Linked DNA regions of Homo sapiens: all the other regions are reported to be linked to region 1. Evidence: microRNA targets listed by miRTarBase, many of them from high-throughput screens and not tested one by one. Region 1 holds a microRNA gene; each other region holds the end of a gene's coding sequence.
Evidence for each region. The annotated mature microRNA hsa-miR-513a-5p reads UUCACAGGGAGGUGUCAU and lies in region 1 at 1,421-1,438, shown strand. An mRNA with a match to its seed (bases 2 to 7 or 8) in the 3' UTR can be bound and repressed. Matches are read on the target gene's strand: a 7mer-m8 pairs with bases 2 to 8, a 7mer-A1 pairs with bases 2 to 7 and ends in A, and an 8mer does both.

Region 2: miRTarBase lists PROX2 as a target of hsa-miR-513a-5p. Seed matches in the 3' UTR shown: 7mer-A1 at 1,585-1,591.
Region 3: the mRNA of MED30 is a reported target of hsa-miR-513a-5p. Seed matches in the 3' UTR shown: 8mer at 416-423.

Annotation. Positions count from the first base shown.
Region 1 is chrX:147,224,070-147,227,337 of GRCh38, reverse strand. It overlaps MIR513A2 (microRNA 513a-2), which reads left to right and starts at 1,386; the gene lies at 1,386-1,512. All of the region lies in intron 2 of LOC105373347 (periphilin-1), which reads right to left.
Region 2 is chr14:74,852,563-74,855,562 of GRCh38, forward strand. PROX2 (prospero homeobox 2) reads right to left here. Exons shown (of 6, transcript NM_001243007.2): 6 at 471-2,740. The coding sequence ends at 2,570. Among named protein-coding and RNA genes, the nearest start is that of PROX2, 22 kb to the right of the region's middle. RefSeq lists an enhancer at 2,119-3,000.
Region 3 is chr8:117,539,629-117,542,628 of GRCh38, forward strand. MED30 (mediator complex subunit 30) reads left to right here. Exons shown (of 4, transcript NM_080651.4): 4 at 255-634. The coding sequence ends at 350. Among named protein-coding and RNA genes, the nearest start is that of MED30, 20 kb to the left of the region's middle.

The DNA of each region.
Region 1 (3,268 bases):
GAAAGACTCCTTTGAAGCTACTGAGGGGTGGGTGATGCAGAGGAAGAGAAGTAGTACCTGTACTGGTGTTTGAAGGAGGGAGTATTGTGTCTGTGTATTTTTTTCCCCTTGAGAACTTTTTGGGGAGATAGCTCAAGGGCCCAAATACTTAAGAGAAAAGCTAAATTGATTGATTGATTGATTGATATATATAAATATTTCTGTAGAATCTAACTTTGGTTGCTTTTCATGGAATTCAAAAAATGCAGTAAAATGCTTGAGATATTTAGAATCATTCTGTTCAGTGAACTATGGCTCCTTGACCGTGACTCAGCACTAACACTGAGCTATGTGCTTCTCTGTCTGTCTTTCAGGGGTTATGTTTAGTAGATGAATGAGAATGGTACATAGAAACACTCGGTCTTGACGATCATGTGGTCTGACTTCTACATGCTATCAAGGGCCAGAGCTAGAAGAATCCAGGTCTTTTAATTTGCCTCAGCTCATGATTATTTGTGTACATCACACACACACACACACACACACACACACACACACACACACACACATATATATATATATAGTTTTTTTTTGTTTTTTTTTTTTGAGAAAGAGTCTAACTAACTCTGTTGCCCAGGCTGGGGTGCAGTGGCATGATCTCGGCTCACTGCAACCTCCACCTCCCGGGTTCAAGTGATTCAGTGGCATGATCTCGGCTCACTGCAACCTCCACCTCCCGGGTTCAAGTGATTCTCCTGCCTCAGCAGCTGCGGTTACAGTTGCCCACCACCACACCCGGCTAATTTTTTGTATTTGTAGTAGAGATGGAATTTCACCACGTTGTCCAGGCTGGTCTCAAAATCCTGACCTCTGATGATCCACCAGCCTCAGCCTACCAGAGTGATGAGATTATATGTGTGACCCACTGCACCTGGCCTGATATTGAGGATTTTTAATGAGACAAGCAAATTAACGCGAAAACTAATGGGATAATCCAGACAAGGATTACACATCTCTGGGGAAGAGATGAAGTGAAATGTTATATTCTGGCTAAGCCTAAAATTTGTGTGTTAATTAGCCATTCGCGGTGGTATGTGCCTTTAATCCCAGCTACTTGGGAGGCTGAGGCAGGAGAAGTGCTTAGACACAGAAGGGGGAGGTTGCAGTGAGCCGAGATCACACCAATGCATGCCAGTCTGGGCGACAGAGCCAGACTTCATCTGAAAACAAAAACAAAAACAAAACAAAAATCTGCATGTTAAAATCTCACTTGGGGCAGGATGAAAAGGGGAGCGCCGGGGGCTACAAGTTGCATTGTCCCTTGGCATAAATCTTGGTGGCCATGCCAAGGCATACACCTATAGGGACTTGAAAAAAAACGGCATGAATAGGGAGCATTTGTTCTTGGATGCCACATTCAGCCATTCAGTGTGCAGTGCCTTTCACAGGGAGGTGTCATTTATGTGAACTAAAATATAAATTTCACCTTTCTGAGAAGGGTAATGTACAGCATGCACTGCATATGTGGTGTCCCTGAGGATGGGGGTGTAGCTGCGAGCATGGTGATGCCTGTTTTGCATCCTGTGCACCCACTCTTCAGTGCTGGGCTACTTCAGGGAACTTTTTGTGCCTTCTAAATGACTATACATAGGAACTGTGGACTCCTGAGAAAACGCATGCACTTCGGTTCCTTAAGAATTTATCTATTTTTGCCAAATGAGGCTTGGCTCAAATAAGAAATACATTGGATAGAGGCCACAGCCATTCTTCGTCAGCTGGAAGGCTATATTCCAGATTCCTAAACTTTTCTCACTTATCAAGAAGTCATCATTTGCAAGGATTCTCCTTTAGCGCTCCCAAAAGACTCTCCTGCCTCTCAGGTCCCTTCATTGCTGATCCACAGTGTCCATTTTCTGTCAAAGACTAAAACATTTTCTCATAGACTTTTAAAATACCTTTCAAAGCCTTCAGTCACCAATTTATGGAGGGTTAAGCGTAGTCCACCCAAGAATATTTCACCCTTTTCCATTATCTTTTTTCCCTGTTTTTTATGTTTGAACAATGGAAGCGTATGATAGAGTTGTTACTCAAGAGATATCTCCTAGTCTTCTCTCCCCATTTTCTGTCTTTTTTTTTTTTGAGATGGAGTCTTTCTTACTCTTTCACACAGGCTGGAGTGCAGTGGCGCCATCTCAGCTCACTGCAACCTCTGTCTCCCGGGTTCAAGCGATTCTTCTGCCTCAGCCTCCCAAGTAGCTGGGATTACAGGCGTGCGCCAACACACCTGGCTAATTTTTGTATTTTTAGTAGAGACCAGGTTTCACCACGTTGGTCAGACTGGTGTCGAACTGCTGACCTCGTGATCCACCCACCTCACCCTCCCAAATTGCTGGGATTACAGGCGTGAACCACCATGCCCGGCCCCATTTTCTTGTGTTGACACTTCTTAACTCAACCTAATGGAGAGAGAAAGAGGCAAATACGCACGTGCACAAGAGTAAGACAAGTGCCAGATGGTGTGAGGCCATCTGCAGCATGAAACTAGTATGCATTTTTTAGAAGTAGGTTATATATAAATAAGCTACTTATATTGGGGAAATGTGTTTAAAAATGTTATAAATAGTAAGTGATTGATTAATACAATTTTGATTCCAACGGAAATAGAGGTTACAGCATATACACCGAAAGAGAGAAACTATAAAAAAACAATTACTATATGGTTACAGGCAGGATTTTAGTTTATGTTTGTTTTTTTAGGTTCAGAATGGATGAATATGTATAAGACCATTAATGTCTGGAAGTAAAAAAAATCAGTTGAAGTATCTTTTTCAATATTAAAACAATTGTACTAATAGAATATATAGAACTTTTTTCATTGGAGGCGGGGGGACATTCTGAATAATAAAAAAAAATTCTGTCCGTTGGAAATACTGTATGTGTGTAGAAATTTCCAAAGTGATAACTCTTTTTAGCATATAATTTCTAAAACTGTATTAGAGAGAATTCATGTGTACTTAAATAAGTGATATCGTAAAATGAAACAAAGACAGAGAATTTAGTTATATCTCTTTTAGGATTTCTCAAAAAGAGTACTATCTCTTTTAGGATTTCTCAAAAAGAGTACTATATTCACTGGTATTTATGGTTTTTCTTTCAGTGAAATACTTTTTTGTATAAGAATGCTTGTGATTTTTGTACATTGATTTTGTATCCTGAGACTTTGCCGAAGTTGCTTATCAGCTTAAGGAGATTTTGGGCTGAGACAATGGGGTTTTCTAGATATACAGTC
Region 2 (3,000 bases), not on the chromosome of region 1:
GAGAGTAGCACCCAAGGCCGGGCACAGTGGCTCATGCCTATAATTCTAGCACTTTGGGAGGCTGAGGTGGGAGAATTGCTTGAGCCCAGCAGTTCGAGACCAGCCTGGGCAACATAGTGAGAACCCCATTGCTACAGAAAAATTTTAAAAACTTAGCTGGGCATGGTGACATGTGCCTGTAGTCCTAGCTACTCGAGAGGCAGAGGTGGGAGTATCACTTGAACCTGGGAGATCAAGGCTACTGTGATCGTGGCACTGTGCTCCAGCCTGAGTGAGAGAGTGAGACCCTGTCTCAAAAAAATAAAAGAATAGTGCCCTCATATACCTTAGTGGAAAAAATGACCAGATCTTTGGCAAAGTATGATTGCTAAAATAATAACCCACTCAGCTTACACTCCATGTGTTTCCAACAGAGAGGGATACGCACTTGATAGAAACAGAAAATTATAATCAAATAGAATTCTTCTGTTGGCAGAGCATACATATTTATACATTCTTCTGTGTTTAGCTCAGTGGTTAGAGAACACTTCCTGGAAAGACTGCAGTACACAAATGTTTTCAATTTGAGCTTGTACATTTCATCTCATTGGTCCCTGAGACAAGGTTCACTGCCCTGGAGGTGACTTGGCTCAGTCTTTAAACACACACTAATGAATTTCAGGTTTGGGACAGAAGAAGGGCTGCTCTCTATTGGACAGTCATGTGAACTTGTTTCCCCTGTATGTCTAACTTAGGTATGTAATGTCACTCTGGATAGAGGGTTCTTCTACTATGTCCGGACACAGAAAACTGATTGCCCTTGCTCAGAGCACTCCATGCTTGCCTGTGTTTAAAACTTAGGTTTGGCAGATTCCTTCATTTTTGTGAAAATAGGGCAAAGATCTTCTGAGTGCAATTGGATGTACTGGAGGGCACTTAACCTTTAGCCTGTAAAGATGGGTTTGGGCTAAGTCTGTTTTGTTTTTCCTTTCAGCTGTTTGAAGAGAAAATTCAAAGGAAAATTCATCTTTCATACTTTTTATGCTGATAGTTCTAGTAATAGTTTAGGGATTTTATCTCATCTGCTCCAGCAACACCCCACCAGAAAAATTATGGAAGTTGAGTAGCCGAATATGAAACTTGTTTTATATAGACAGGAAAGAAGCTAATGAACTCACAGACACCCCTTATCAGGACTACAAAGCCCGAGCTGTGTATTACCCCCACCCCACCCCACCCGGCGTACCTTTGGCAGTGCTTACAAAGACTTGATCCTGACTAGCTTAGAAGACAGATGCAGTTACTCAGCTTTGTACATGCCTTGCCTATATACTCAAGAGTGGGTCACAATTGTGCTGGGCCAGCAGCAGGGGGAAATGTTGATTTCATGAATTCCTTCATCAGTGGAAGGTCAGCCATGGACTGTAATTTTGTTATGGAGTGGGAGAATTTCCATTTCTGTGTGATGCTGCATTTGTCCCAGTTATGCCATTTATCATCTGCAAGGCTGTGCACAGCCTGTGCAAGCCTCCTGTCTGGACTGCGGTTCTTCCTTCCCAATTTAAGCAGCATGGGCCAGATGATCTCCTAAGGCCCTTTCTACCTTTCACAGTCTGAAGTTCAGCTTCTTCTGCATATATGAGGTTGGGGCACCAATTGCAATGGTCAGCTGGAGACTATTTGCATTATCCAGCTGATAAACTCTTCCAGCAGACAAATGTGAATAAACAGCAACACTCAAGTCCTGCATAAAGTTTGTCTTGAGTTTGCTGAAATGATCAGCAGAAATCTTGGGCGGTGAAGTGCTCCTAAGTGCTGGGCAGGAGTTGTCAGGTGACGGTGCCCTGTCAGCGCTGGATGCTTACTAGGGGTGGGGTCCTGCTTGAGATCCTGAGTTAGCTGCAGGAGATGGGTCCAGCATGCAGTTGGGCATCAGAAAGTCTTGGTTCCTCCAGGCTCCTGACTGTCCCTATCAACCCAGATGTCCTAGCCTCATAGGCTTTGGCGAGTTACCTTGCAGTTCTAAAGCTTCTGTTTGGTCATCTTTTAAATGATGATAATAACTACTTTTCAGGGTGAAAAGCTTAAAGTATGTGAAAGTATCTAGCAAATAGATGGCGCTTTATAATTAGGTGACTAAAAACAGCAATTTGTAAAAACCCCAAATAAGATAACCTTATCTGAAAGAGGGGCTCAAAAAACTGACATTTGTGTGTGAATGACATTGCATAGGACATACTGTCCTTTAATCCTTAACAACCTCATTTTACAGATACAGAGATACCAGGAAGTTCCCAGGGTCACAACACCTGGAAACAATGGAGTTGAGCTTCAAGTCTTCTGATTGGAAACTTGTGTTCCTTTTACAATATACTACCAATACACCAATATAGTTAGTACATTTTATAGTTAAATTTCTGATGATTCTGGAAAGGGAAATAAATGATCAAAATGGTAATAGTACCTGTTTTGATAGAGGAGATTTCCTTGTGCCCTTTTTATATGACTACAGCTAAATTGCCCTTTAAGACAAACCCAGGAAACCCTAGCCAGTCACTCCTCACGTTGTGGGATCTTAACCCCGAAACAGCTACTGGGGATAGCTGGAAGATTTGAATATCTCTGGGATGTCACTGTCCAGTTTCGAAATAATTTTATAAATGGGTTTCTTCCAGGAAGGATCTGAGTCTCTCCCTGCGGAGACAGCCCTGAAGAACTCCTGTAACGTCAAGCTGGCAATTTCCAAGAAGCAATCTGGAACCTGCATTTCCAAAGAGACCCACAAGAAAGAAAAGACGTGAGGTTGGGAAGCACTGGTGCCAGAGCCCTCACTAGCGGGTGCTGCCTGTTTCTTGGGTAGTGGGCTAGGAGCATCCCTGCTCTAGTGGCCCCTGATTCTGCAACCCTAGGACTCCTCTGCTTCCTCATCAGACACAAACCTTGATAAGACAGCTCCAGTGAGAAAGCCCTGGGAGAAGGTGAATTAAGGACACTTCCTTTGTAGGAGGAGCTGATCTCGCT
Region 3 (3,000 bases), not on the chromosome of region 1:
TGGAAGTGGAAGAGTAAGCAGGGCCTGGGGCCGGGGCTGGGGCCATAGACCTCTGCAGGCTGGATTTTTAGAATTCAGGATCCCTGTCAGCAAATATTTAAGGCCAGAAGAGGGTTGAGACCATCTGCCTTATAGGGTTATTTAGCTTAATTTCTGTCTGTATCATTATAATCCTAACTTATGATATTTTAATCTTCTAACTTCATGGTCTATATTTCCTGAAACATTTTTGATAAATTCTTTTGTTTCTACAGAAACTCAAACAGAAGAATCAACAGCTGAAACAAATTATGGATCAATTACGAAATCTCATCTGGGATATAAATGCCATGTTGGCAATGAGGAACTAAGCTGATATTTAAATTTCCTGCTTTACACATGTTATACCATTGTTTTTTCCCTCAAGTATTTTTTCCCTGTGAAGAAGATTATTTATCTGCTTTTATTTTAGTCACTAAAACTAAAGTTTTTATTTTTACATTGTGATTTTTACATTAAAATATTAACTTTTTTTAATGCTATTTTATGAAAGATTATTGTAATAAACTTTGATGGGGTTTGTATTTTGGTTAATCTTCATGAATTGAATAATTGTTTTTTTAAAGCAAAATAAAGTTTTTTAAATAAATGTTAATATTTGATTAATGGATTTACTCATTCCAATTACCCTTTTAGAAGAAAAATATTTAAATATTTCTGCAGATAAAAGTATCAAATACAGTCAATCTGTATACAAATCAAAATTAAAGATATATTACCATATCAGCTCAAGTTTTTAAATTCAATGTTATTGCCAAGCCAATTAAAATGTATATTTCTATGAATAGATGAAAATTAACATATTCCTCCAGTGTTTGGTCTTAAATGATCTGTCTCTAAAAGGAGAGAAACTAATGATCTAAGGACAGCACAAATTGAAATCACAACTGTGTGCTTATCTGCTATGTGCTTTAAGCTAAGAAGCAATCACTTACCTAATTTTTTAGGTATACCCTAAAGTAATCATAAGTGTGTTTTGGAAACAGTACATTTGCAGGGATTTTAAATGAGATAGTTCTATATAACAGGTGATTTTTTTTTTTTTTTTTTTTTTTTTTGCCTATAGTCAATCCTGTTTAGGTCTCCCTGTGGGAGCTGATCTCTCAACTTACAAATAATATATATTCTCAAATAAGAGTTGGAGTCTTCTCAGAAAGGACTTTTCCAGCTTGATTCAGAAGGCTCTTCTATCTGGTCTCAGTTCTGACTCTATGAAAAATATTGTTTGGGCTTTTCTTCTAAATGTTTCTCTGGAAGGTAACACAAGAAACTGTAATAGGCATCCTCTGGGGAGGGGAAGTGGGTAGTTGAGGATCAGAATTAAGAAGGTGCTGACTTTTCATTGTATATCATTTTGTACCTTTTGAATTTTACAGCATGTACAAATACTGGCTATTCAGAAAACAGGAAACTATTTTTCATTTTAACTTATGCAGATTCCCACCTAGACAGAGTACAAGAAGACAAGACAAACCATGCAAGCATCTTTAGACCCTCCAACTTGACATTTGTCAAGGCAGTTCTGAGCAAGCCCAGTGTTAGATGGGGCGCTGACTGCCTACAGTGGGAAGCTCTTCAGAGTTAAAGGGCAGAATGAAAAGGTGTATGAAGCTGTGACAAGGAGAAGAAATAGGACTAATAGTCTAACCTACTGTGGTACTTCTTAGTATCTAAGTGTATTATAGTTTATTTGGACATGCAGGATTTTTTAGGTTTTCACTGTATATTCTTTGCACTATTATGAATTTAGTGCACTATCGTTGGGTACTCTTGTCAATTTATTTTTGTATTGATGTCTTCTAAGACACTTCTAAAATGTTCTGACCTAATGTTTTTGTTTTAATTATCACACTCAACTACGATTATTCAAGGTGCCATAAACTCAACTCTTGGAGGGAATGTGGAAATTGTATTATTTTGGCCTTAGTTCTATAAATAATATTTCTACTGTAGAACAATAATCAATGCAGCTACACTCTGCTACGGAGCTGTAGCAAGTTCTGAAAGGTTATATTCACAATTCAGAACTGACATGGGTTTACCCAGTTATTCACAAGTCTACTTGGGGCCAATTATGAACGTGGCAGGGTTTATTAAATACATGAACCTCACAAATTCTCAAAGTTTCAACTTTTTCTTGAAGGAGAGCATACTAATAGATTGAGGAGTAAAGAAAGGTGAATTAAGTTGTTGTAATGTGTTCCCTTGGGCAAGTAAATCTCTGTTTTCTGTAAAATGATGGGTGAGACTAGATAATCTCATATTCTATGTTAGAATTTTGGTCGCAAATATTAGAACCCAATTCTAAATGGCTTAAGCCAAAAGGGATTTCTTAGTTCCTGTAGTGAGAAAAGATGCTAGAGAAGAGCTCACAGAATAAAAGAAAATGGCAGGAAACAGGGCTTCAGGTATTGGAATCAAGTTTCAGTGCCCTCAGGATTCTGTGTCCACCCCTAATTTTAGTCTGTCTCTGTTTGCTCCATTCTCTCTCATTGCAGATCGGTTTTTTCCAAGTGGTGGGGAAAATGGCCTTCCACTGTCCTTTCACCTTGCTGTATCCTGAGCCCAGAGCTAGGTTGCTTCTCCAACTCTAAATTGAGAAATCCTAGAATGAATTCTAAAAAGTTTGGGTTATATAACCAACCCATGGACCAATGATAGTATAAATGGGTAGTATGATTAGACTAATCCAGGTTATAAGCTCATTCTTGTGGCCAGGAATCGGGTATGGGAGTTATGGAAGAGTGTACTGTGCAAGGAACAAATATTCGAAAAAGAGGGGGTCAACCAGGAAAATTTGCAAAAAAAAAAAAAAAATCCACAAACAACAGCAACCACAGTCCACTGTTGTTCTTTCTTGGTTATAATACTATCTCAGATATAATACTAGTTATCCAATCTTTCAGAAGCCCAAGAAAAGTTTACAGAAAATCAAATGCATCATTGACTGTCATGGGAATT